Regions from separate parts of the Homo sapiens genome. Here region 2 is linked to region 1. The links come from fine-mapping of genetic effects on plasma protein levels. Region 1 holds a variant in brackets. A gene starts in the other region. All regions are shown on their reverse strands.

Region 1 (11,589 bases):
TTACCAATCCCATGACATTGTATAAAAACTTTCTCAGACCTAGCCACAATTTTGGTATTCTTTCTGAGGACTTTGGAGAGGCAGACCGATCCTTTCATTGGTCATCTGAAAAAAAAAAAAAAAAAAAAAAAAAAAAGAGTCACTACCAAGTCGGTGGGGCTGAGCTGGGGTCTGTGGAGAAATTTCATGTATAAGTTTGGTAAAGCTTCCAGGTCTTCTGGATCCAAGGCAGATCTTGACAATTCAGAACAGTCCTGTGAATTGCTCTGAGGCCATCTCCATGTAGTTCTCCCATGCAATTAGTTACATCTCCTCCTGAAGCTTTCATGGGATGAGCAATTTGATGAATAAAAACAAACAAACAAACAAAAACTTGAGACTTGAGTGCAAAGTATTATTTGGAAATCTTACCTCCTAATGAACTTATTTCAAAGGCAGCTTACCGAGTTTGGTTGAAGGTATGAAGGTAAGAAGTACCTCTACAAATTTATGTAGGGTGGAGGTGGCATGTCCGATTGCCCACATGACACAGTGCTTGTGCAATGCAAAGAACGTTCAAGAATCATCTGCTGTAGGAATGACAGAGAAGCTTCTTCTCAAAGTCTATCTTTTATCAGTGGGTAGTGGCTCCCTGAAACTCTCAGCTGAGATAAATCCTGAGACCTCATCTGGGTTCAACAGGAAAAATAAATAAAATGAGTGACTAGTGATGTCTGTTGTGGATGCGACAATAGAGAGTTATGACCTGTGAGCCAAATATATACTCTCCTACCTACTGTCCAATTTTCTCATTTTCTAGATGGGCAATCTGAGTTTCACGTAAAAGTTACTTGCCCGAAGTTACATAATGTACTACAAGTTAACTCCACATTAAGTTAACACCAATGCGTCTTTTCTACCACATTATAAAATTTAGCTCCAATCACCCATGAGAGGAAAGCAGGCTGATTAAAGAAAAAAATTGTGTATGGCCTCACAATATAAGTTTAGTTTGCTGGTTTCCACCAACATCTGACATATTGGTGACTTATGCATTGTGGTTTATTTTAAAGCTGCCCCCATTTTTTTTTCTTTGCAAAGAACCTGAATTATTTTAACGGGCCACTTTGTGCCAGTCATTTACAAGCCATGGGAACTTCTTGAATTTACACAGTCAGATTAAAGTTATTGTGAAACAGGGTGATGCAGCTTTCACAGGGGATATCCAAGCGACAGGGGTTGTTGACTTGTTATTTGTTGAGTGATGGGCCCTAAACTTCCCCCAGTGATATGTTACACCACCCTGATCCTTTTTCTCCCATTTCCATGGTGTCCTCTTCCAGACTGGCTGGCGCAGCTGAAAAATAAACACTGGGTGTCCCCCGCATATGGTGTGAGGAGTGGGAAGAGAGGAATCATATTTATTTTAGATGCACCCTGGAGATCTTGACACTAATGCATTTCTATCTCTCCTCTCAATTCCATGAGTGGACGCTTAATATGATCTCTGGCTATTGCAAGGGAGGAGGCCAGTGTGACAGCAAATCTGGGATCCAACCCAGACAAACAGTGGGAAAGCAAATATCCTGACAGACCAGTATGGAAAATTCTCCTTTCTTTAGAAGACAGATCTGTCCCCCTTATTTAATCCCCGGCACAGCTGCTCTACTCAGGGCATAGAGACATCAAATGAAAATGGATTCTGATTTGGGAATCATAGGGGCAAATCTAATTTCAGATTATTCCTTTTTCCACAGTCTCACCCTGCTGGAGGTTCGAGCCAAGACATAGAAAGAGGACATTACCTGGGGCAGGAATCAATTGCCTATCACTGGGGATGCCTGCAGATCATTGTCCAGAGTGGCTGCTGTTCACTGAGTGTTTCCTCTGTGCCGGGCACCTTGCACACCTTATTTTCAGTCTCCGCAGCTGCCTTGTTGAGGTTGGCTCTCTATGCTTCTGTTTCACAGTTGGGGAAACTGAGGTTCAGAGATGTGAATGAATTTTCTCAAAGTAACGTTAAGTATTGGTAAGATTTCATTTATCCATTCACTATTAAATATTATTAAGTAATTACAGTGCTTTAAGAACTCCATGTAAATGGTGGATTTGAGGCAAAACTTAGAAGCTGAATTACATAAGGAGTTAACATTGCAAAAAGCTTAGAAATTTATGTTCCAGGTGGAGCGAACAGAGGTTGTGTCTTTTCGGTTACAAGTAATAAAATCCAGAGGCTATCTCAAGGGAAAAATAAAGCACTAGATGGTCTACCAAAGATAGAGGGGCAGGTGGATTTTGGGAAGGGGCAAGAATGAACAGCTAGAAAAATGTGGCTTACGTTTACTGTCTTATCTGCCCCTTAGCTTCATAGCTTTCTTTTTCTCATGTGTAGAGTGATCAAAGATGACCACCACCAAACTTTCATATTAAAGATTAAAACACAAAAATAGGCCAGACACAGTGGCTCATGCCTGTAATCCCAGCATCTTGAGAGGGTGAGGCAGAAGGATCGCTTGAGCCCAGGAGTTTAGGTTCAGCCTGGGCAACATAGCAAGATCCTGTCACTATAAATAGTAACAAGATTAGGTGGACATTATGGTTCATACCTGTGGTCCCAGCTCTTCAGGGGGCTGAGGCAGGAAGATCCCTTGAGCTCAGAAGTTTGAGGCTGCTATGAGCTATGATTACGTCGCTGCACTCCAGCTTGTGTGACAGAGCAAGACCCTGTCTCAAAAAAAAAAAAAAAAAAGACATCTAAATAGATAAATAGAGCAACTCTCCCTCTCAGAATCCTGGGCACAAAATTTCTATTGGCTTAGCTTCTGTCAAGTGTTTAATCCTAGTCACATATCAGAGGCTGCAGGTGGATGGGGTCATATGATATAATACGGCCTCGTGGGGATTGATCACTGTGGGTGAAGAACTCAGTTAAGGTGGCATTAGAAGGTGGACAGATAGCTTGAAAGATGCTGCCTCACCCAGTTACAGAGCTAAAAACCAGACCTAAGTGTGTGTAAGTCAAAACACTACAGTTGACAACCAACTTCATATCTTCTATCATTTCAGAGTAGCACGACACTGGTCAAGAAAGGCCCACATGTTGGTAATTTGTGCCTCCCATATGGTCAATGCTACATTGCGAGGAAGCATGCTGAGCATGACAGTATGCTCTACACCTGTGTGGCTACCATGTTTTGGTTGCCTCCATATAATGGAGTGGTTAAGAGTCCGGGTTCTGGGGCTGAAACACTGGAATTTGAGCCCCAGCTCTGCCAGTGTGTGCCCTTGAGAAAGCTAACTGCCCTCATTACATGTGTTGGTCTTCTCATCCATAACAGGCAGATAATATTAGTTTCTAGCTCAAGGGGTTATTGCCAAGATCAAATGAATGAGTACAGATTAACTTATTGAACAACAGCCAATAAAGGCAAGTTATTTTGAGATACTCAGACTGGACACCATGGGAAACAATGATGAAAGACTCTCCCACAGAAAGACATGGTGTGGTAAGGCAGGGGTTGCAATATTCCGGAAGCTCAGTCACCATAATGAAATAATAGGTCCAGGCATGATGGACACAGTTCCTTTGGAGTCATGTTCCAATTACCACATGGAACCATGGTCCCAGATGCTGACCAAATCTGCTGGCCCAGCTTGGCTTCATTAGTCCCCAGAGATCACCCAGACAGATCAAAGAAAACCCATCCTCAACCAGCCAGAGATTGCTCAAAAAACCAATGACTGTCCCACCAGGGACTGGAATTCCAACTTGCTGGCTAGGTCTGGAGAAGGAGGTGGAGGTGGAACTGCATCCTTTTTTCCAGTATGGACTGAGAGCCAACCATGTGCCAAGGCTGGGAGGAGGTACCGAGGTTGCAGAAAGAAAGGCCCAGTCACGGAATTCAGAGAACTCAGAGTTCAGTGGGGAAGACATGGGCATCCACAATGATATGGGACAATTCATGTTTTTCATTGTTCTGGTAAGAATTTAGTGGGATTATAAAAATAACAATAAAAACAAGAACAATAAAGTGAGATTAAACGAAATGCAAAAATAAAATATGTAATTTCATGAAGAAGTTAAAACAAGGGAAAAATGAGAGAAGAGGGGATAAAATGTAGCTGGAGTTAAATTAGTGGCTGAAGTCAAGAGACTGGCTTTGGAGCCTGTGTTCTGCCTCTTCTGAGAGAGCACAGTGAGCTTGAGAAAGATAGTCTACCTTCAGCATCTCTGCTTCCTCTTCTGTAATGTGGGGATAACAAAAATCACATGTGGATTTTGTGATGAATGAATGACAGCAGCTCTACATAGCGCATTACACAATGTAGGGCCTATTAGAGGTGGGGATGAGGTTTCAATTATGGGCTAATGGTGCAAAGCTTGAGATCACAGTGCTTTGCCATTCACCTCTTCTCCCTAAAAGGGTCCTAACAGAGGGAGATTTTCACATAAGGAATACCCGCCAAGCAGGAAGCAGGCCACTGCTTTATTAATAACGGATATGAATGAATAACCTAGCCAACATTCAATGGCACCAAATGCTGAGCTTTCTAGCAGGGCTAGGTTTGGGATATAAATGAGGGCTTGGTTTGGGATATAAATGAGGGTTCCTGCTGCTATACCCTCATGGCAAGTTCCTAGCCAGACTAGCTTCCTCATTTCGGAGAAGGAAGAATTAGAATAGCAACCAAAAAAAGCACATATACATCATTTGAGTTGGACATACAGTCCCTGAGAATAAAGACTACAGCCTCCCTTGTCACTAGATTTGGCCATATATCTAAGCTTTGGCCAGTACATTATAATATCTTTCCTAAAAAGACAGCTAGCTCAGACCCTTGTTTATTTATTTGTTTGTTTTCATTTGTTGTTCCTTTCTCCTTCCTGCTGGTTGGAAGGTGAATAGCATGATGACAGTCCTGGCAGTCGACTTGGATTACATGAACCTGGGCCACATCCTAAGGAAGGCAGGGCCAAAATCTGGAAGGAGCCTTGGCCTCTGGGGACTTGACCTGCAAAAGCCTCCCATTAGCTCTAGACTTCTTCCCTTCAGATTTATATATGAGAGAGCAGGACACTTCTACTGGGGGTATGCTGCTGTTAGTTTGAGACTCTGTTACAACTAAACTTTGTTCTAATGATACAAAAAACTTGGGGCTTAAAAAATATAAATATCAGTATCTAGAATCATAATTCAAAGTCATGGGTTTTAAAAAAAAATACATAATTGAATAAGACATGCTCCAAAAAAGTTCTCTGCTTGTTATTCTTTCAAACTAAAAAGAGTCGTTGAGCCTCCACTGGGTGTCAGGTGCCAGCAGCGGATGTTACAAAAATCCAAGGATGAGTGACATTCACAAGGCTTTGTTTTGTGCATCATTGGGGCTTTTGTTTCATGTTGGAAACAGCATATGAGGTAGGTTTGAGTATGGGGAGAATTTGAGAGAGAGAGAGAGGAGGGAAGGAGAAAGCGAGAGGAGTTAGGGTGGAAACTAGTGTTTCTAGGAGAGTTAATAGTAGGACTAAGACAGGCATAGTGGCACACACCTGTAGTCCCACCTACTCTGGAGGCTCAGGTGGGAGGAAGGCTTGAGGCCAGGAGTTTGAGTCCAGCCTGGTTAACATAATGAGACCCCATCTCTCTAAAAAAAAAAAAATCGTAGAACCAAAGGCCGTGAGAAGAAAAGCCCTTTTCCCAATTTCAATATTTAGCCATGGTCTTTGTTTAATAAGAGAGTCTCTTTAATTGCTTAATCATGATGACTTGATTCCCAATTCCTGTTATCTGTGTGACCTGACACAGGCTCTGATACACTGTCGCTTCCCGGTAGATGATGGATGCTGCAGTTGTTGTTAGATATTCAGACGAATGCAAGCAGAAGAGCAGGGCCCACCGGTAGCACCTTTTGTTCTATGTATGTTTTCGTTTCTCATTTGAGGCATTGGGTATTCATCTCAATGTAACCCAACACTAGCTCCTGCCCTGTATCTTCAGGACTGCAGCTTATGGTCAAACAGGTTAGGTGATGGATGACTCTAGGGAGGGCCACTGACATCGTCCACAGTGTGATTTGCACT[G/A]GGATTGTGCAAGAGGCTCAGTTTACACAATCATCAGCAGAACTTCGCCTAGGGCCTCTTATTAGAGAAAAACATGGAGAGGACAAATGCCCTTTCATCTTCTGTCATTCTTTGGCCCAAACCCTCCACCCCACTGGAATGCCAGCTTCAAGAGGGCAGGGATGTTTTGTCTGTTCTGTTCACTGCCATCTTCCCAGTGATCAATAGTAAAATGAATTATATTTGCAGTGTTACTTATGGAAACACCTTTATTCCACCCTGTAATCTACTGGAAGCTTCCATGTCTCAACCACGTGCCAGAAGGTCATAAAGAAAAGAAAATGGAAACTTGAAAATGGGCAGAACAAATGCTCCTGTTCCCTAAATATATTGCTGGTATCTAGCGCTGTGTCTGATTTCCCCACCATTTTATTTTTGGCCCTGATCTCAGAGGCTTAAAGCATTAAATCATCACTAGACAAGGGTGAGCACAGGCTGTTAGAACAGAACAAGTTCATGGTGCTAACAGACCCTCCCAGCAAAGATTGTGATCTGGCACTGTGAGAACAGCATCTTATTGTGTGTCTGCAGCCTGAGAAGACAGCACCCTGGCATGGAAAAGTGTGGCCTGAGGCTCTGGGTTGTTGGGTTCGCTGTAGAGTTTATTCTCTCATGTAGTCCCCCAATCATCACACCCATGCCGTACCCTGACTCATTGGTTATTGGGTGTAATGTCTCTCTATTCAGTAATGGGGATTCTTTTCTCTTTAAGTCATTAGCAACTCAGTGATAACTGCTACTTCTTGCAAAAAAGCGTTTGCAAGCTCCACTTCTGCCCATTCATGGGAAAACACACACCCGACTTCGGTTCAGTACCTAAGTGTTCCAGGCTCTACGCTACACACAGAAGAGGTGCTGTCTCATCAGTACCGTACCACACTCCTCTGAGTCAGGAAGAATTAGCCGCATGTCTAGCCTTCCTAGAGAAATTAGGAAAACTTCCCAAGATAGTGCTACTAGCTCATATCTGTAGAACTTATTGCATGCTCAACTAGCCCTTTTCAACTCCCACAGCCACCCTAAGTGAGAGGTAAGGGTAGGTGTGCCCATTTTACAGATTACATAACTGAGGTGCAGTTACTCAGGAAGTGAGGGAACCAGGATTCAAGTCAGCCAGTCAGCACCAGAACCCACACACTGAATCTAGTCCCGAGATTGGGGTTGGAATCCAGTCCTTTCTCCCAGTCTGCAGGCCTCCAGTACCAGGAGCTCAGTCGAACAGGTTTTACAAACTCCTTTCAGAGATCTGGCATACAAATGAATGATGCAGGCTAAGGGTATACAAACTTTCTTTTGTTCCTGAAACAAAGCATTGTCTCAGTGTTTCTTTGCTTTTTTTTTTTTTTTAATTAGGTAGAGATGTAGGTGCTGGAAATACTTTACTGTATTCTTAGCTCTGTGAATGCCAGAAAACAAGTAAATGCAGATAACATAGAAGCAGAATCTGAACTCAGGGAACAGCTTTCCTTCCAAACAGTTTGCCTTGCATGCATGTGGTGAACAGGGAACACTTTTACACTGCAGGTGGGAATGTAAATTAGTACAGTCACTATGGAAAACAGTATGGAGACTCCTTAAAGAAATGAAAGTAGAACTACCATTTGATCCAGCAATCAACTACTGGGTATTTATCCAAAGGAAAAGAAGTCATTACATAAAGAGGGCACATGCACACACATGTTAATAGCAGCACAATTCGCAATTGCACAGATATGGAACCACGCTAAGTGCCCATCAATCAACGAGTGGATTAAGAAAATGTGGTATATGTACACCATGGAATACTATTCAGCCATAAAAAGCAACGAAATAATGTCTTTTATAGCAACTTGGATGAAGCTGGAGGCTGTTATTGTAAGTGAAGTAACACAGGAATGGAAAATCAAATATAGTGTATTCTCTTATAAGTGGGAGCTAAGCTATGAGGACACAAAGGCATAAGAGTGATATAATAGACTTTGAGGACTCAGGGGAGAAGTTTGGGAGGGGGTGAAGGATAAAAGACTACCTACTGGGTGCAGTGTACACTGCTTCAGTGATGGGTGTCCTAAAGTCTCAGAAATCACTACTAAAGAACTTATCCATGTAACCAAAAACCACCTGTACCCCAAAAAACTACCGAAATTAAAAAACAAAAAACCATGAAATGGATGTCTCATCACCAAAAAACAAACAAACAAAAAAAAAAACAAAAGAAGTTTGTCTCGGGAAACAGTTGGGGTTTTCACAAACTTGCTGAGCATCACTTAAGGCCTATGCTTCCTAAGGCTACAGGCAAGAATGTTAGAGACTGTCTTTTAAGTTATTTAGTTTTTGCATCTTCCATTAAAAAAAAAGGTAGGGTGATAAATCACAGATAGATAAAAAGCTTTTGCCAACATGAGCTTCTCTCTGCAGCAACTGGCCTTCAGAAGGCAGACTGGGGCAGCCTGCAGATCTGCCTGCAATTCCTGGTCCTGACTGTTGTTCTGCAACTGGAATTAAGGAACCAGACAACGTGCCCAAGATTTATGGATTCCATTGTTTATGATATGTGTTCCTCACATATGTTCCCTCTGTCTCACCCGACAGGGAACACCACATCACAAGGTCTGTGGGAGTTGGAGAAAACTCTCGCTGACTCCCTGAATATAGTCCCAGTGGGAACCACCTTGGGGAGAGGCTCTGTCCAGCTGAACCCTCCAGTGCACAGTATGCTTGGCTGCAGAGGCTTGGAGTGAGAGAGGAGACCAGGGTCCAGCTTCTCGGACAGCACTCACTGGGGTAGGTTGTGTCTGGCACATTTTCAGCAACTGCTTTCAAAGTAATAATAATAGGAATTATAATCTAAAAAGAATGGCTTCCACATGTCGCTCTGCTTGTTTAAAATCCAGGTTCACAGCCCTACTTCTTGAATTCCCAATTAAGAAGCGTCTGAAGGAATCCAGTGATCTCTGTATTTAACTATCTTTCAGAATAATTTATCAGCAACTAACTACGACATTTGAAAATCACTGATCTAAAAATGTCAACATCCTGTTCACAGACATTTCAAAGTTTCCTGAAATAATAGTTCAAGACTTTCTTTTAGAGTGACTCCCCTATGATACAAAGCAAATGCACGTATATGAAAGTATATAATGACCAGAATAGTCTGGTAATCCAGTGAGTATCTATGATGTGCTAGGCACTGCACAGAAAAGTTTACAGGCATTACTGCATTTAATCCTTTCTGCAGATTTTATGGGGAGAGGGTTATGAATGCACCCATTTCACAAATTATAAAACCATGACTCAGAAAACAAGAGCTGCCGGAGGTCACACAGCTAGTGAGGAACAGAGCTGTGATTTGGGCCCAGGTTAATTTTATTTCCATTTGATTCCTTCTTTGATGAAAACTGGGAGAAATCAGTGTTTTGTTTTTCCTGAAAAGGAAATTGAAATAGGAGAGAGTTTGGGGATCTGTATTAGTTTTCTGTGGCTGCTGTACCAATTTACTACAAGCTTGGTGGCTTAAAACAACAAAAATGATGTGTTTTCTCACAGTTCTAGAGGCAAGAAGTCTGGAATAAGTATCACTGGGCCAAAATCAAGGTGTCAGAAGAACTTCACATCCCCCAAAACCTCCAGGAGAGAAGCCATTCCTTGCCACTTCCAACTTCTGAGCCTCCAGATATTCTTTGACTTGTATCTGTGTCACGCCAATCTCTGCCACTGTCTTCACATGGCCTTCTCTTCTGTGTCTCTCCAATTTGCCTTTGTATTTCTCCTATAAAGACACTATCATTGGATGTAGGGCCTACCTGGATGATTGAGAATGATCTCCTGTCGAGATCTGTAATTATATCTAAAAAGGGCCTTTTTCCAAATGTTACATGGTGAACATGTTTCGGGGGAACTAGCATTCAACCTGCTACAGCGTCCTCTAGCTAGGAAGTGGTAGAAGCAGGACCTAATGTAGATCTAGCCACAATCCCACATGGATTGCTTAGACTGCATCAATTGTGAATGACAGACACCCAGTGCAACTTAAGCTTTCTGCATTGCTGTTGAATAGGGGGAGGAGGAAATGGTGGATACAGAGTCACTGTAGCTGAAGATGCCAAAGGTAGACATTTCTAGTTGCAGACATCATCTACATTTTGTGGTCAGGGCTCAAGCCATCTCTTGGGCAGGCTTTCTTCACCCAGTAGGTGAAATGTCTTCTGTTAGCTCAACACCCACAGTCCTCTAGTGTGGCCAGTGGAAAGTGACTTCTCTTTCCATTAACTCAAGAGAAAAAGCCCGAAAAGCTTTGGCCCTGCCAAAATCACATCACCCTGGTGAAATCACATGATCAGCCCTAAACCAATCACTCTAGCCAGGGAGATCATTTATTCAATAGCAATAATAAATATATATTGAGTACATTCTATGTGTCAGGAATTCTTCAAGATGTATAAAAATACCCCAGCAAACAGAAGACAAATTCCTACCCTCATGGAGCTTATATTCTAGAGGAAAATACAGACAATTAACATATAAACAAATTTTAAAAACTGTCATTCAAATTCAGACAGAGAGTAGAGCTATGTAATAAATTAATTAGGGCAATGTGCTTAAAAATGGCCAGAGGTGGTGTGGACTCCTTTAGCCGGTATGATCAGTTAAGACCTCTCTGTAGAGGTGGTAGATGAGGTGCAACTCAAGTCACGGGAGGCAACCGTTTAAAGATTTGTGGAAGATCATTCTAAATGGAAGGAATAGCAGGTGCAAAGACAGTGGGGTGGGAACAACCTTAGAGGAACAGAAACATGGACAGTACAGCTTGACTATAGTCCATGAGCAGGAGAGAGTATGAGATGGAGTACTTCAGTGGTGAAACTGGGATCTCAAAACCAAAATGTGATTTCCAACCCATCTGCTCTTTAACTCTTTTCTACACAACCTTGCTCAGGAGAGGTATGTCTGTCCACCAAGCATAGGTCTCCTGTGCATTGTGTCACCCCTCTCACTGCATGGCTAGAAGATGTTCTTTGAGCAGCTGGAAGATTGTAAATATGACACCATCTATTTGGTGGGTGATTTTTGCTCCTTCTGGTATAAGAGGATATAAGTGGGGAAATAGAACAAGAGTTAACAAACTCTGTAAGGTCTCATTGGATCTTCACCCTAACTCAAACTTGGTCCAAACAAAACTCTTTGACAATATTTAGGTGTGAGTAGGGGAGTTGATAAATGATGTTTTCTCTCTTCTCTTCTTTTTCACTTTTATACGCCTCTGGGTTGATGGTTTCTGGCCAAGGCCAGAGGTACTAAAATACCACAAGAAAGGAGAACTTTGAAGTGATCATCTGTTCAGCCAAGAAGGAGGTGGTGCTGCCTGAAGGTTCACCAGGAATGCGGTCTTCTGGAGCTTTAGACAGAGTTCCTAGGAGGCCCCCAGAGACAGACAGATGCCTTGGAGTTGATTTGGAGAAACATCTGAACTTCTGGATGGAGTTCTGAGCCGAGCCTGAAACCCTCTGGGAGCC
Region 2 (11,589 bases), not on the chromosome of region 1:
CTGGATAATTTTTGTATTTTTTTCTTTTCTTTTTTTTTTTTTTTTTTTTTGAGACGGAGTCTCACTCTGTCGCCCAGGCTGGAGTGCAGTGGCGTGAACTCGGCTCACTGTAAGCTCCGCCTCCTGGGTTCACACCATTCTCCTGCCTCAGCCTCCCGAGTAGCTGGGACTACAGGCACCCACCACCATGCCCGGCTAATTTTTTTTTTATTTTTTAGTTAAGACGGGGTTTCACCATGTTAGCCAGGATGGTCTTGATCTCCTGACCTCATGATCCGCCCACCTCGGCCTCCCAAAGTGCTGGGATTACAGGCGTGAGCCACCGCGCCTGGCCTGCATTTTTTTTTCTAATTTGAATTTTTTTTTTTTTTTTGGAGACACAGTCTCGCTCTGTTAACAACCTGGAGTGTAGTGGCGCGATCTCGGCTCACTGCAACCTCTGCCTCCCAGGTTCAAGCGATTCTGCCTCAGCCTCCTGAGTAGCTGGGACTACTGGCATGTACCACCATGCCCGGCTAATTTTTTGTATCTTTAGTAGAGAAGGGGTTTCACCATGTTGGCCAGGCTGGTCTCGAACTCCTGGCCTCATGATCCATCGGCCTCAGCCTCCCAAAGTGCTGGGATTACAGTTGTGAGCCACCGCACCCAGCCCTCTCCCTTCTAACTTTCATGGAGGCAATCTGAGCTCTAGTCTTCAATTGGAGCCTCCCAAAGTGCTGAGATTACAGGCGTGAGCCACTGCACCTAGTCAAGTAATAAGATCTCAAAGCTAATTAATGGTGGAGTAGGGATTTGACCCAAGACAGTATGGCTCCAGAGCCTGTCCACTTCATGGATTTTGCTGTTACCAAACCTTCATCAAAGAACAGTGTGCCTGGCCAGGTGCAGTGACTCACATCTGTAATCCTAGCACTTTAAGAGGCCAAAGTGGGAGGATCCCTTGAGACCAGGAGTTTAAGACCAGCCTGGGCAACATAGCAAGACCCCATCTCTATAGAATAAAAATCAACTTAGCTGGGCATGGTGGTGCACACTTGTAGTCATAGCTACTGGGGAGGGTCAGGCAGGAGGATGGCTTCAGCCCAGGAGGTTGAGGTTGCATTGAACTATGATCCATCCACTATACTCTAGCCTGGATGACAGCAAGACCCTGTCTAAAAAAAAAAAACCACTGTGCCTTTCCAGAGTTGGCCCTGTATTGGGTGTTAAATCTATAAGAGCCTCAATGGTAAGCTCTTGAGAATTTAGGGCCATAAGGGTTGCTTTGGCTTGAGAGATAAGGATATGAGCAGGCACTAAAACCCCAGCCCAGAGACCTCAGTATGAGGCTATGTAGGGGGTGTGCTCGGCATTGGTGTCCTTGCACTGGTATTTATTCATCAGGAGGTAAAGAAATATTGAACAGAAATGTTTTGAGCTAAAAACTGCTTCTCGAGGCTGGGCGCTGTGGCTCATGCCTATAATCCCAACACTTTGGGAGCCTGAGGAGGGTGGATCACCTGAGGTCAAGAGTTTGAGAGGAGCCTGGCCAATGTGGTGAAACCCCATCTCTACTAAAAATACAAACAGGCCAGGCATGATGGCTCACACCTGTAATCCCAGCACTTTGGGAGGCCAAGGTGGGCAGATCACGAGGTCAGGAGATCGAGACCATCCTGGCCAACATGGTGAAACCCCGTCTTTATTAAAAATACCCAGCTACTCGGGAGGCTGAGGCAGGAGAAGTGCTTGAACCCAGGAAGTGGAGGTTGCAGTGAGCCAAGATTGGGCCACTGCACTCCAGCCTGGTGACGGAGACTCTGTCTCAAAAAAAAAAAAAAAAAAAATTAGCCAGGAGTAGTGGCAGGCACCTGTAATTCCAGCTACCAGGAGGCTGAGGCAGGAGAATCACTTGAACCTGGGAGGTGGAGGTTGCAGTGAGCTAAGATCACACCATTGCACTCCAGCCTGGGTGACAACAGCAAGACTCTGTATCAAAAACAAACAAAAACCTGCTTCTTGGGCTAGGTGCGGTGGCTTAAGCCTATAATCCCAGTACTTTGGGAGGCTGAGGTGGGAGGATTGCTTGAATCCAGGAGTTTGAGACCAGCCTGGGCAATATAGTCAGACCTCTGTCTCTACAGAAAATTTAAGAATTAGCCAGGTGCAGTGGTGCATGTCTGTAGTCCCAGCTACTCAGGAGGCTGAGGTGGGAGGATTGCTTGAACCCGGGAGGTGGAGGTTGCAGTGAGCTGAGATTGCACCACTGCACTCCAACCTAAGTGACAGAGGGAGACTCTGTCTCAAAAAATATACATAAATTTTTTTTTTGCAATTGCTTCTTGTCAATCTCAGCCCAGGACCTGGGTGACCTCTGCCATAGAGAAGGGAATGTATTAAGCCATTCTTCCTTTGCTATAAAGAAATACCCTGTAATCCTAACACTGGGAAACTGAGGCTGGAGGATCACTTGAGCCTAGGAGTTTGAGACCATCTGGGCAACATGGTGAAACCCTGTCTTTACGAAGAATTTTTTTTTTTTAAGATGGAGTTTCGCTGGGTGCGGTGGCTCACGCCTGTAATCCCAGCACTTTGGGAGGCCAAGGCGGGCGGCTCACCTGAGGTCAGGAGTTCGAGACCAGCCTGACCAATATGATGAAACCCCATCTCTACTAAAAATACAAAAATTAGCCGGGCATGGTGGCATGTGCCTGTAATCCCAGCTACCTGGGAGGCTGAGACAGGAGAATCACTTGAACCTGAGAGCTGGGAGGCGGAGGTTGCAGTGAGCCGAGATCGCGCCGTTGCACTCCAGCCTGGGCAACAAGAGCGAAACTCCGTCTCAAAAAAAAAAAATGGAGTTTTGCTCTTGTTGCCCAGGCTGGAGTGCAATGGCACAATCTTGGCTTACTGCAACCTCCGCCTCCCGGGTTCAAGTGATTCTCCTGTCTCAGCCTCCCAAGTAGCTGGGATTACAGGCGCCTGCCACCATGCCTGGCTAATTTTTTTGTATTTTTAATAGAGACAGGGTTTCACCATGTTGGTCAAGCTAGTCCCAAACTCCTGACCTCAGGTGATCCACCTGCCTTGGCTTCTCAAAGTGCTGGGATTACAGGCATGAGCCACTGCGTCTGGCCTTCTACGAATAATTTTTAAAAATTAGCCAGGTGTGGTGGTGTGCACCTGTAGTCCCACCTACTTGAGAGGCTGAAGTGGGAGGATCACTAGAGCATGTGAAGTTGAGGCTGTGGTGAGCCATGATTGCACCACTGTGCTCCAGCCTGGGCAGTAGAGTGAGACCCTGTCTCAAAAAAAAAAAAAAAAAAAGGAAGAAAGAAAAAGAAAAAAAATACCTGAGACTGGGTAATTTTTTTTTTTTTTGAGACAGAGTCTTGCTCTGTCACCCCTGCTGGAGTGCAGTGGCATGATCTCAGCTCACTGCAAGCTCTGCCTCCTGGGTTCATGCCATTCTCCTGCCTCAGCCTCCCGAGTAGCTGGGACTACAGGTGCCCGCCACCACGTCAGGCTAATTTTTTTTTTTCATTTTTAGTAGAGATGGGGTTTCACCGTGTTAGCCAGGATGGTCTCAATCTCCTGACCTCATGATCCGCCCATCTCGGCCTCCCAAAGTGCTGGGATTACAGGCGTGAGCCACCGCGCCCGGCTTTTTTTTTTTTTTGGAGACAGGGTCTCACTGTGTCACCCAGGCTATAGTGTGGTGGCATGATCTTGGCTCACTGCAACCTCTGCCTTAGCCTCCCAAGTAGCTGGGACTACAGGCCGACACCACCATGCCTGGCTGACCACCATGCTTGCCTGGGAGACTGAACAATTTATAAGGAAAAGAAGCTTAATTAGCTCATGGTTCTGCAGGCTTTATGGGAAGCATGGTGTTGGCATCTGCTCAGCTCCTGGGTAGGCCTCTGGAAGCTTACAATCATGTCAGAAGGTGAAGGAGAAGCAGACATGTCACATATCCAGAGCAGGAGCAAGAGAGGGAGGGAGTTATGGGAGGAGGTGCCACACACTTTTAAATGACTGGATCTCTTGTGAACTCAGTGACAGCTCACTTATCCCCAAGAGAATGGCCCAAGCCATTCATGAAGGATCCACCCCCATGATCCAGACACCTCCACCAGGCCCCACCTCCAACATTAGGGATTACATTTCATCATGAGATTTGGGTGGGGACAAATATCCAAACTATATTAAGGAGGAATATTTCCCTTTCTTTATCAGGAGTATAAAGTAGGAGGCATGGGGGATTCTCTCCCTGTTCTGTTCAGGCATAGGTTAAGGAAACACCAATTCCTTTAAACATATGCATCTGGAGTTGCCAATTCTGAGTATCACAGTTGTTAAAATATGACACAGTCCCTGCCCTCAAGAAATTGACAAGGTAGAAAAATAAAAAATGGCTCTTTTTGTTTCCATCCCTACAAGCACTCTGGTCTAGTAGTATATTCAGCAAAAGGAGCAAAAAGTGCCACTTCCAGCTCCAAATCAGCAGGTCGGGTGGTGGGGTCTGGCCAAGTTCACACACAGAATAATTAACTCCTGCATGCTACCTGGGATGATATTTATTCGATGCTTGCTATATGCCAGGTATAATGCTACACCTTTTTTTTTCTTTTCTTTTTTTTTTTTTGAGTCGGAGTCTCGCTCTACTGCCCAGGCTGGAGTGCAATAGCATGATCTTGGCTCACTGCAACCTCCGCCTCCTGGGTTCAAGCAATTCTTCTGCCCCACTGAGCCTCCCGAGTAGCTGGGAATACAGGCATGTGCCACCATGCCCGGCTAATCTTTGTAATTTTAGTAGAGATGGGGTTTCATCATATTGGCCAGGCTGGTCTTGAACTCCTGACCTCGTGATCCGCCCACCTTGGCCTCCCAAAGTGCTGGGATTACAGGCGTGAGCCACCGCGCCCAGCCTACACCTTCATTTAAATACTATACTCATTTAATCCTCACAATGTGAAATAGATACTATTATCCTTAATTTTACAGGTGAAGAAATGGAAGCACAGAAAAATTAAGTGACTTGCCCAAGGTCATCCAGCTAGTGTCGGCATTTGAATCTAGGCAGTCTGTAAAGCTTGTGGTCTTAACTATTTATTATACTGCTAACATCCTGGATTAGGATAGCAGCAGGAATTAAAGCTCAATGGAGAGAGAGAGGACTTGAGAGAAGGTAGAATCCATGTAATCTGACCATAAGAGGAGAAAATTGAGATTACAAGTGAAAGTGGAATAAGATACAGGGTCTTTGGGCATTTGAGTTGCAATCAGTGGATTGTAACACCCTCCCCGAGCAGGATTTGTGTCTTAATCATTTTGCACCTAGCATAAAGCTGGGCTCATAATCATTCTCAAAACACATTATTGAATTGAATGATGGATGAGTAACATCATCTCTGTAGAAAGGACTGGCTCATTTGTCATTGTCCACAAGGGGCAATGCTGCTTATCTAGCAGGTGTTGGCAGTCACAGAGGACATGGTTGGTGGAGAGGGTGTGCTGGAGGGCTGTCAATATTAGTCTTGGAGTCATATTTATTTGCAGAGCTTCTCCAATCCTCATTAAAGGCCCAATGATATGAGGCTCTCCACCCCTGTACCCAGACAGAAATATGCACCAGACACTTTATTTTCTCTCATGAAAAGGCTGGCCTGTTACAGGTGGGATTGGTCATTGCTCCCAGCCCGTCAGCTTGATACTGCATTCTTGGTCTATTCTGTGGGGACAGCCCTGGAATAGACACTGAGTATCTATCAGAGTAGGCACCCTGAGCAAACTTCCTTTCCCAAACCCTCTTCCTGCCCATAACATGATTTGGCTTGGGCTGGAGGAGGGGGAGGGCAGAGGAGACACCCCTTGACCACCTCACATCTTTGTTGGTTCATGGGTCTCAGCCCTTTCCTATCATCCCAAAGAGCCTGAAATTGTTACATTTTGCTTTATAAATTCCTTTCTTAAGTATTGTCAGTTTCAAAAAAAAAAACCCAAAAAACGATTGTCTGCCTGTAATAGCAGGTGTGAGAGAAAATGAGGTGCCTGGAGCATATTTCTCTCTGGCAATGGGGTAGAGGGCCTGACATCATGGGGCCTTTAATGGTAGCCCCCCAGCTTCATGTTCCCTCACCTTTCTGGAGAGGAGGGCTTGGGAAAGGCACATGGAGATAGGGTGGAGCTGGGGGAAAACAGGCCTTGTACAAAAGCTGAGTAGCCAGATGTTCACTTTTACAGCTCTTCTGTAAAACTGGCAGGGCAGATATAGATTAAAACGAAGGACAAACTCCATTTAAAGTGCATTACAGCTCAGGAACCAGCACCCCCTGGGCAGGAGAAGGGAGGGAAGGGCACAGAGGCCACATCAGTCTCCTTCCTTATCTAGGGCCACATGTCTCTCTCCTAGCTTTGCCAAGGGTGATTTACACCCCCAGCTGGAATGACTCTCTTTCTGGGCTGATTACATCGGCAAATGCCCCCCAGAGGCCACAGCAGGATGGCCATATTCAGAAGCAGCAGCCAATAAATCTCAGAGGTTTATATTGCGATTCTCAGTACTCCCTGCTGGCCCTCTGCCAGGCTGGCTGTGGAAGTAAGGAGGGGGTCAAGTTAGAGGGTTAGGGGATGAAACCCTCCACTTCCTTTCATCACCCTCTTCTCCTTCTCTCTTTCTATGCGCTGCTTAGTTCTCATTCTTCCAAGCCATTCTGCTTCTGGCTTTATCCTGGGATCTTGTGGGAATCAGGCCCAGGCCCAATAAATACCCTTATCCTTATGGGTAGACGTCCTGTGTTCTGGGCACAGATGTGTTTCTACCTAGTTGTTTAATCCTGATAGAGTAGCTTGCTCTCCGAAAGTCTCATCATGTGAAAAGGATGGGCTCCTAAATGGTCTCTCCAGGCACCTTCCTCAGTGAGCTTTGGTCCAAGGAAATCTCTGCTATTTAGTGGAGAGTTTAATCTTCCATCTTCCCTCACGACACCATCGGGGCTGAATTTTGGAATCTAATGCCCCAGGTCTGCTCCCCCAGCAAAGCCATTCCACCTGTCTGCGACCCATCTTTGCAGCATCTTGAGCTTAATAACCACCCAATCTTACCCTAGAAGACACTTAGGAGAGGAAAAAACGAGATCATAGATGTGCAAATTCTAAGAAAAATACTAGAAATGCAAGTGCCCTTGTGTTGGCTTGTTCAAGTTTTGTTACAAAATCTCTTTTGTGGTGGTGTCTGTTCTTTGATGTGTGGGTGAGTGGGATCCAGAAAGTGAGAAAGGGTGCTTTTCTTGGAGAAATATTTGGTTCTCCTAGATGGCGAGTTTCCAGCGGCAGCTTCCACAATGTCTTGCTAGTCGAACTTGTCAGACAGCAGGTGGGCCGCCTCGGAAAGAGCAACCTCTTCCGCACCAAGCCCGGCGGCTCCCGGGGCGCCGGCCCTCCCCCGCCCCCACCCCCGCGGTCCCTCGGACCAGCGCTGGAGGCGCGTGGTGTGGACGCGCGCTTCGGAGTTGGAGGGCGGCGCCCAGGACCCTGGTGGGAGAGTGTGTGCGTCGCGCTGGAGGGCGGGAGGCGGGGGCGGGAGGTGCCGGTCGAGGGAGCCCCGCTCTCAGAGCTCCAGGGGAGGAGCGAGGGGAGCGCGGAGCCCGGCGCCTACAGCTCGCCATGGTGCGCCCCCTGAACCCGCGACCGCTGCCGCCCGTAGTCCTGATGTTGCTGCTGCTGCTGCCGCCGTCGCCGCTGCCTCTCGCAGCCGGTGAGTGTCAGAGCGCGCACCGGCCGGGGGTACAGTGGGAGGGGGAGGTGAGGTGTAGGCGAGGCCCGGGGCACCTGTCCGGAGAGGGCGCAGCAGCCTCCCGGTGCATCCGAGCCGAACAAGGGGAACTGGAGCAGGAAGCCCAGGGTGCCTGCAAGGGGCTGGGGTCACACCTAACACAGTGTACGAACTGAGATAGACTGAGTGCCAGCAATGGCCTGGCCACCCAAGCATCTCCTCCTCGCCCCTTTTTCCCCCCTCTTCCCTCTTTTGAGGTAGGTCTACACAGTCACAGAACAACCCACAGCCAGGTCACTACCAAGACAGCGTCTCTAAGAGGCGGGGAGAATCAGATCAGAAACAGAGTGTCATTTGCTCCACGTGGGCTTTAACTCTTCCATCTGCTTTAAGGACTGAGGAAGAAACTAGGTACAGGTGAAGAAAAAGAAGTTCGTTAAAACTGACTTGTTTCATAACCTTCTACAATAGCAGGCCTTGCAAGCCGTCTAGCACAGTGGCTTGCCCCTTGGATAATAAATAATCCACAATAGATGTTTTGTAGATGTAGTTCAAGGCCTGGTTTTAGAACCAGGCCACTCCCCCAAGGAAGAACAGCCTGGGATCCGAGATCCCTGGAAGGCCCATGGCCTTCGTGAGTGGTATGGGTGTGTGGAATCTTATTATGCGGCTCCTGCCCAGAGACTGAATGGAGGGACTCCTGAGACAGAGAGACCACCACACTGCCCTGAGACCTCAGTCCACAACGCAGTGCTGTAGAAATGCTGCCTTGAGACAGATATGGAAGGAAGGAGGAAAAACCCTGGTCTGTCCACCTGCCAACATCAGTAAGTCAGGGCAGCAAGACATCACCAGTCTGATTTGACTGCCCAGGAAATTTCACTAATCCTAAAGGTTATGGCTGCATGTCAGGATCAGGGGAAAACATTAAACACCTTTCTCATTAAATGGTTTAATGAAGCAGTGTTGGTGACAGATCTATTTTCCACAGTAATACTTGACAGCAATGACATCTGGTTAAGTAGCCTCATTGAAAATCCATAAAACAGTCATCTAGGAGGTACCATGTAGAGCCAAGTGCTCTTCAAGAGCACAGACCAACAGAGGGCTTTGGGGGTGGAAAATATCATTGCTCAGGGCCTGCTAAAGCCAAGCATATAGGAGACCTCCGATTCATGGGGAAGTGGTGTCATGTACTGAAAATCATTCTGAAGTGGATAGGAGGCTGGAGTCCTGGGTTCTAGCCTTGACTCGGTCTTGACTTGCTACATCCCCTGGTGCACATTACTTTTCTTTGTTCATCCAACTATAAAATGGATACCTGGGTTGTGGGCCTCACTGATGAGAAACAAATGAGGATCTTGTGCCCTGAGGCATAGCCTGATCTGACCCATTCTGTAGCTACTCATTCTCTGATGAGCCAAGAAGCAGAAAACAAAGTTACAAAACCAGGTTGCTAACAAATCAATATGAAATAGACGTGGCAGTGGCTGTATAAATGAGGAGGTGGGGCAAGTAATAGAAAGTGGTATGGACTATAACAAGCTGGAAAAGGCATGACTTGTCAAAAGGGGGCAGTCATTACTCCACCCGTTACATGTGGGCCCGAGTGTTTCCATTTTTCAAGACAAATTGGAAATTAATAGTTTTATTTGAAATCTGATTTTTTTTTTGAGACAGGGTATCAATCTGTCACCCAGGCTGGAGTTCAGTGGTGTGATTCCAGTTCACTGCAGCCTCAACCTCCCATACTCAAGTAATCCTTCTGCCTCAGCCTCCCCAGTAGCTGGGACTGTAGTAGTGTGCCACCACACCTGGTTAATTTTTGTATTTTTTGTAGAGACGGGTTTTTGCCATCTCGGATGCCCAGGCTGATCTTGAATCCTGGGCTCAAACAGTCTGCCCACCTTGGCCTCCCAAAGTGCTGCAATTAAAGGTGTGCGCCACCGCACCCGGCCTAAAATCTGATTTTTAAATGTTGGCCACTAATTACAACTTTAAGAAAATACTGGCTGGGTGCAGTGGCTCACACCTGTAATCCCAGCACTTTGGGAGGCTGAGACGGGTAGATCACGAGGTCAGGAGATTGAGACCATCCTGGCTAACACAGTGAATCCCCGTCGCTACTAAAAAATAGAAAAAATTAGCCAGGCATGCTGGTGGGCGCCTGTAGTCCCAACTACCCGGGAGGCTGAGGCAGGAGAATGGCGTGAACCTGGGAGGTGGAGCTTGCAGTGAGCTGAGATCGCGCCACTGCACTCCAGCCTGGGTGACAGAGCGAGACTCCGTCTCAAAAAAAAAAAAAAGAAAAAGAAAATACTGTGAACGTGCAAAAAAAACCAACCAAACAAACAAATAAAACAACCAAACCACACACACACACACACACACACACACACACAAAAAAAAAAAAAAAAAAAAAACAGAAAAGAAAATACTGCCGGGAATGGTGGCTCACGCCTATAATCCCAGCATTTTGGGAGGCCAAGGTGGGTGGATTGCTTGAGCTCAAGAGTTCGAGACCAGCCCGGGCAACATGGTGAAAACCCATCTCTACAAAAAATACAAAATTAGCTGGGCGTGGTAGTGCATGCATGCAGTCCCAGCTACTTGGGAGGCTGAGGTGGGAGAATTCACCTGAGCCTGGGAGGTCGAGACTGTAGGCTGCAGTGAGTGGCGATTGTACCACTGCACTCCAGTCTGGGTGACAGAGATTAAAAGAAAGAAAAGAAAAGGAGAAAGGAGAAAGAAAAAGAAAGGAACGGAACTATGCTGACTAAAAAAGACACATTTGCACACTGGATCAAATTATGACCTTTGCCCTGGATCAAGTCCTGTGTTTCACAATCCAGGAAACACAGGTTCCACCTTGTTGAGATGAAATTTAACGTGGCCCCCAAGTTCTTTGTTGAGATGAATGCCCCTAAATCCATCACTGCTCAAACTTGGTAAAGTGTCAACTAAGAAATTGTTTTCTTTTGAAAATGTTTACAACTCAATAGTTAGTACAGTTAAATATTTATGGCCGGGCACAGTGGCTCATGCCTGTAATCCCAGCACTTTGTTGAGGCCGAGGCGGGCAGATCACCTGAGGTCGGGAGTTCAAGATCAGCCTGACCAACATCGAGAAATCGCATCTCTACTAAAAATACAAAATTAGCCAGGCATGGTGGGGCATACCTGTAATCCCAGCTAGTTGGGAGGCTGAGGCAGGAGAATCGCTTGAACCCGGGAGGCAGAGGTTGCAGTGAGCCGAGATCGCGCCACTGCACTCCAGCCTGGGTAACAAGAGCAAAACTCCACCTCAAAAAAAAAAAATTATTTTTAGTCCAGTTACAACAATAGAACTTGAATCTGCCACTTTTCTTTGTGTACTTACCACTTATTCAGTACCTACCGGAAGTAACATCGTAAACTTGTAGAAATTCCTCAATCTTTTTAAATCCATGTTCCCCTTTTGGTAAATATATAAAATCTCATACCTTCCTTAAATACTTTTTGAAATCTCAAAAGCTTTTTTTTTCATCTTGTACATGTAAAATTATCAAATATGCTTTTTGGAAATACATATTTCCTAGAGAAATTCTGATATACTTTTTCTTTTCCATAGGTTATTGGGGTACATACAGGTGGTGTTTGGTTACATAAGTAAGTTCTTTAGTGCTGATTTATGAGATTTTGGTGTACCCATCACCCAAGAAGTATATACTGCACCCTATTTGTAGTCTTTTATCCCTTCCCCTCCCCCACGCTTCCCCCCAAGTCCCCAAGTCCATTGTATCATTCTTATGCCTTTGTATCCTCATAGCTTAGCTCCCACATATCAGTGAGAA

Which allele goes with the higher level. Alleles are on the strand shown, and positions count from the first base shown. The strength of an association depends on the size of the effect and on how common the allele is.
For the plasma level of the protein whose gene starts at base 7,451 in region 2, allele G in region 1 goes with a lower level than allele A (strong association).

Evidence for each region. PIP is the chance, under the fine-mapping model, that this variant and not a neighbour inherited with it causes the effect. The UK Biobank Pharma Proteomics Project read protein levels with antibody pairs (Olink). The fine-mapping took linkage between variants from a reference panel, not from the people measured, so its PIPs are less certain.
Region 2: it holds the start of GFRA3, and the variant in region 1 is fine-mapped to the plasma level of the GFRA3 protein (UK Biobank, PIP 0.93).

What each region holds. Positions count from the first base shown.
Region 1 is chr12:115,301,046-115,312,634 of GRCh38, reverse strand. LOC124903082 (a long non-coding RNA gene) reads left to right here. Exons shown (of 11, transcript XR_007063592.1): 9 at 1,737-1,921; 10 at 8,669-8,860; 11 at 9,623-11,589. Among named protein-coding and RNA genes, the nearest start is that of LINC02463, 580 kb to the left of the region's middle. The variant G/A (reference allele first, on the strand shown) is at 6,059.
Region 2 is chr5:138,270,483-138,282,071 of GRCh38, reverse strand. GFRA3 (GDNF family receptor alpha 3) reads left to right here and starts at 7,451. Exons shown (of 8, transcript NM_001496.4): 1 at 7,451-7,738. The coding sequence starts at 7,648. RefSeq lists silencers at 7,359-7,448, 7,539-7,728.